Linked DNA regions of Homo sapiens: region 1 is linked to region 2. The links come from fine-mapping of genetic effects on gene expression. A gene starts in region 2. The other region holds a variant in brackets. All regions are shown on one strand. Distances are between the middles of the regions. Region 1 has its middle 44 kb from the start of RNF7. Region 2 holds the start of RNF7 (ring finger protein 7).

Region 1 (2,784 bases), 44 kb after region 2:
CCTCCTTCTTCTCCCTTAGCCTGTGTTCTCAAGAACTTAAAACCTCTTCAACTCACACCTGACCTAAAACCTAAATGCCTTATTTTCTTCTACAATACCACTTGACCCCAATACAAACTTGACAATGACTCCAAATAGCTAGAAAATGGCACTTTCAATTTCTCCATCCTACAAGATCTAGATAATTCTTGTCGTAAAATGGGCAAATGGTCTGAAGTGCCTGATGTCCAGGCATTCTTTTATACGTCGGCTCCTCCCTAGTCTCTGTTGCCAATGCGACTCATCCCAAATCTTCCTTCTTTCCCTCCCTCCTGTCCCTTCAGTCCCAACCCCAAGCATTGCTGAGTCTTTTCAATTTTCCTTTTCTACGGACCCATCTGACCTCTTCCCTCCTCCCCAGACTGCTCCTTGCCAGGCCGAGCCAGGTCCCAATTCTTCCTCAGCCTCCACTCCCTGACCCTATAATCCTTTTATCACCTCCCCTCCTCACACCCTGTCTGGCTTACAGTTTCATTCCATGACTAGCCCTCCCCGACCTGCCCAACAATTTCCTCTTAAAGAGGTAGCTGGAGCTGAAGGCATAGTCAAGGTTAGTGCTCCTTCTTCTTTATCCGACCTCTCCCAAATCAGTTAACATTTAGGCTCTTTTTCATCAAATATAAAAACCCAGCCCAGTTCATGGCCCATTTGGCAACAGCCCTCGGACCCTTTACCGCCCTAGACCCAGAAGGGCCAAAAGGCTGTCTTATTCTCAATATACATTGTATTACCCAATCTGCTTTTGACATTAGAAAAAGCTCTAAAAATTAGATTCCAGCCCTCAAACCCCATAACAGGACTTAATTAACCTCGCTTTCAAGGTGGACAATAATAGAGAAGAGTTGCAATTACTTGCCTCCGCTGTGAGAGAAACCCCAGCCACATCTCCAGCACAGAAGAACTTCAAAATGCCTGAACTGCAGCGGCCAGGCATTCCTCCAGGACCTCCTCCCCCAGGATCTTGCTTCAAGTGCTGGAAATCTGGCCACTGGGCCAAGGAATGCCCACAGCCTGGGATTCCTCCTAAGCCATGTCCCATCTGTGTGGGACCCCACTGGAAATCAGACTGTCCAACTCACCTGGCAGCCACTCCCAGAGCCCCTGGAACTCTGGCCCAAAGCTCTCTGACTAACTCCTTCCCAGATCTTCTAGGCTTAGTGGCTGAAGACTGATGCTGCCTGATTACCTAAAAATCCTCCTGGACCATCATGGATAGCTCTTACAGTGGAGG[G/A]TAAGTCCGTCCCCTTCTTAATTAATACAGAGGCTACCCACTCCACATTACCTTCTTTTCAAGGGCCTGTTTCTCTTGCCTCCATAACTGTTGTGGGTACTGACGGCCGGGCTTCTAAGCCTCTTAAAACTCCCCAACTCTGATGCCAACTTGGACAGCATTCTTTTATGCACTTCTTTTTAATTATCCCCACCTGCCCAGCTCCCTTATCAGGTTGAGACATTTTACCTAAATTATCTGCTTCCCTCACTATTCCTGGGCTACAGCCACACCTCATTGCTCCCCTTTTCCCCAGTTCAAAGCCTCCTTCGCAGCCTCCCCTTGTGTCTCCCTAGCTTAATCCACAAATATAAGATACCTCTACACCTACCTTGATGACCAATCATGCACCCCTTATCATCCCATTAAAACCTAATCACCCTTACCCCACTCAACGCCAATATCCCATCCCACAGCAGGCTTTAAAAAGGTTAAAGCCTGTTATCACTTGCCTGCTACAGCATGGGTTTCTAAAGCCTATAAACTCTCCTTACAATTCCCCCATTTTACCTGTCCAAAAACTGGACAAGTCTTACAGGTTAGTTCAGGATCTGCACCTTATCAACCAAATTGTCTTGCCTATCCACTCCATGGTGCCAAACCCATATACTCTCCTATCCTCAATACCTCCCCTCCATAACCCATTATTTTGTTTTGAATCTCAAACATGCTTTCTTTACTGTTCCTTTGCACCCTTCATCCCAGCCTCTCTTCACTTTCACTTGGACTGACCCTGACACCCATCAGCCTCAGCAACTTACCTGGGCTGTACTGCTGCAAGGTTTCAGGGACAGCCCCCATTACTTCAGTCAAGCCCAAATTTCTTCCTCATCCATTACCTATCTTGGCATAATTCTTCATAAAAACACAGGTTCTCTCCCTGCTGATCATGTCTGGCTAATCTTCCAAACCCCAACTCCTTCTACAAAACAACTCCTTTCCTTCCTACACATGGTTAGGTACTTTCACCTTTGGATACCTGGTTTTGCCTTCCTAACTAAATGATTCATTCTCCCCATTTCCCCATATTTCCCTCTTTTCTGTTCCCCACCCAGACCACACTTGGTTTATTGATGATAGTTCTTCCAGGCCCATTCGCCACTCACCAGCAAAGGCAGGCTATGCTATAGTATCTTCCACATCTATCCTTGAGGCTACTGCTCTGCCCCGCTCCACTACCTCTCAGCAAGCCGAACTCATTGCCTTAACTCAGGCCCTCACTCTTGCAAAGGGACTATGTGTCAATATTTACACTGACTCTAAATATGCCTTCCATATCCTGCACCACCATGCTGTTATATGGGCAGAAAGAAATTTCCTCACTACACAAGGGTCCTTCATCATTAATGCCTCCTTAATAAAAACTCTTCTTAAAGCTGCTCTACTTGCAAGGAAGCTAGGGTCATTCATGCAAGGGCCATCAAAAGGCATCAGATCCCATTGCTCAAGGCAACGCTTATGCTAATAAGGTAACT
Region 2 (2,784 bases):
GGTATGTTTACAGTCTCACCCCCCTTAAGGTGAGCAATTCTCTGTATGTTCTCCAATTCTCTCATTTTTCAAGACAAGTCACAGTTTTCAAACGATAGAAATGTCCGTTTTCTTTAACTACCCTCAATAAAGAATTCCACTGAAGAGGGTCTCATAGTAATTTTAAATGCCCTATCTGAAAATACAACTTGCATTTAAATAGCACCTGCTTTTCAAAGTGGTCTGAGTTCTTAGAACCATATAAAATATAACAAGATTAAGCTGTTCTGAAAAGTTTCACTTGGTCTAATATTTTAACTCAAAATATCACAGAAAGAAGACATATTTGTAAGAGGGTTCTCCACAAAGGCATGACTCAGAGCAGCACAGTATCTTCTCCAGGAAATGGCATCCAATATGGAGAGGGGGGTGTGATGGAGGTGAAGTTTTACGTTTCTGAAAAAAGGGCTTACAATTCTTCAGCTTCCATGAAACTTAGATATTCTTGAACCACACTGTTCCCTTCAAGCCACGCTAGTGCTATCTGACCCGTCTTAAATCAATCCAGATTTAAAAGCCATTCGAAGAGCGGCGGTAAGCTAATCCGGAAATGCAATGGCTATGAACACTTTCCTGCGTCCCTCGAGGAGAACTAAGGGTGTCGTTTTGTGGAAGATGACTCTGGAGCATCACTTTGGTGGTGACCAAGACTATTAAAGTTCACTGCTGAATCACGGCCTTTACCCTGACCACCTTGTGTTGAGCTTTTAGAGGTGGGGCTGGGGCTGGACACACAAACCGAAGTGTTTCCTGCTAGTTCCCAACAATCACCCGGTTTTACTTTCTTGGTCACACCCATCACTACCTGAAATTACCTTGTTTAACTCCGTTTATTGCCCGTCTCTCTCCCTAGAACACCAACCACCCGGCGCAGGGCGCCTGTTGCACAACCCCGCAGCCCCAGGCGGCGGCCGCAGCCCTCAGGAGCCGCAGCAGGAGCGTGGCTCCGCGTTCCTCCGGCGCCGGGGCAGGGCGACCTCCACCCACTCTCCCAGGCAGGGCACTTTCCGAGGCTTCTGACGGACGCCCGTCCCTTCCCAACCCCGAGGTCGGCTCCCGGAGGCCGCAGGGCGGCCCTGGACTCGCGTGCAGCGCTTACCCATCACCTGGACCCTGCAGATGGCGCACGTATCGCACTCCACGTCCCAGCTCCACATGGCCACCGCGTTCCACTTCTTGAGGGAGAACATCTTGTCGCCTCCCGACTTGGAGCCTGAGCTCCCGGAGTGAGAGGCCAGGGCGCAGGTTTCCTCTCCGTCTTCCACGTCGGCCATGGCGGCGCCGCGGAGCCGACGGCGGAGACGTTGGCTTGGGGAAGGCGGAAGGCTAGGGCGGCTCTGTGGAGCCGCCCGACGGGCCACAGCGCCGCCCGCAGGCCGCCAGCCACCGTGGTGCCTAGACCCCGGCTGCCCACGATTGGCTGGCGCGGCACAGTGACGTCACCTGACGCCAGCGCCAGGGGGGCGGGCAGGCCCCGCCCTCGCCGTCCTAGGCCAACTGAGAGGGCTCGGGCCCTTATGGGGCGACGCCGCTGAATCTGCCTGCTGCGCTGCGGGGTGTTACGTCTGAGCAGGCGCACAGATTGTGCAGGGATATGTGTCCTGCTTTACGGCTTCATTAAACCTACTGCTCTCAGAAATTATCTTGTTAATTTATTCGTTTGTCTCTTCCCTCCCAAATGTAAAACTCTATCAGAGCAGGAAACATGTTGCTATCACCACATTATCCTCCGTATCTGCAAAATGCCTGGCCACAGGAGGCACAATTATTTGTTGAGTGAATAAATGATCTTAAAGATCTAGAAATCTGGTTCAGTGATTCTCAAAACTTTTTGGTCCCAGGACTCCTTTTCACTTAAAAATTATTAGGACCTTAAAGAACTTTTATTTATGTAGGAAATGTGTAAATATATATATATATACACACACACATATTATGTATGAATATATATACACATATACAATGAATATATGTATATTCATATATACATACATTTCCTGTATATGTATACACACATATGTAGAGATTAATGTTTGCTTTTGAAGAAATTAAAACATTTTAAAATGTATTCATTAAAAATCACAGTAGTAACCTCATTACAGGTTATCATTAGAGGGATGACTTCACATACCATGTAGTTGCTAGAAACTCCGGTGTACACTCGTAGAATGAGAGTGAAAAGAGAGAAATAGCTCTAAATATTGTTAGGCAACTAGTTTGCCCTCTTTTGACCGCTAAAAGAGGTCGGGATCCCAGGAGTCCCGGTGTGTGGCGACACAACCCACACTTATTTTTCAGGCCCCGCTCCCTCAGCTGCACAGTCTCCATTCCTTCTGCTCAGTACATTTGAGCTAGTTTAACTTCCTCTTTTTATATGTAGGACTAATGAGGTCTGAAGAAGTGAAATGACAAAGATCACATCGTTATTATAGTAGTGCTTCTACGGCTAGCCCACCATCACATGTGTTTCCAAGAAAGCCGGTATCTCCATTGAAAAGAAAACAGAAGCACAGCCAGCCTAAGGAGATGCCTGACCCCACCATCACCTAGTGGTGGACAGCTACTCTGTCAAGTTTGGATTCTGAGCCTCTCCCCATCCCCTCATTTCCTGATACCTGGGCAAAAGCTAACCAGACTAATGGAGCCTGGCAGGGGAAACAAGAATGCATTAATATACAGAAACATAAATATGGACACAGGGTCACATTTGGTTAGATGCAAATGCGTATTTGTTGAGTGGTGTGT

Evidence for each region. PIP is the estimated chance that this variant, and not a neighbour inherited with it, causes the effect.
Region 1: its variant is fine-mapped to the expression of RNF7 in whole blood (INTERVAL, PIP above 0.99).

Annotation. Positions count from the first base shown.
Region 1 is chr3:141,692,966-141,695,749 of GRCh38, reverse strand. It overlaps the pseudogene LRRC78P. Among named protein-coding and RNA genes, the nearest start is that of RNF7, 44 kb to the left of the region's middle. The variant G/A (reference allele first, on the strand shown) is at 1,271.
Region 2 is chr3:141,736,871-141,739,654 of GRCh38, reverse strand. It overlaps RNF7 (ring finger protein 7), which reads right to left and starts at 1,357. Exons shown (of 3, transcript NM_014245.5): 1 at 1,139-1,357. The coding sequence starts at 1,313. RefSeq lists enhancers at 206-884, 1,085-1,324, 885-1,564, 1,675-1,724, 1,765-1,814 and silencers at 885-1,064, 1,325-1,584.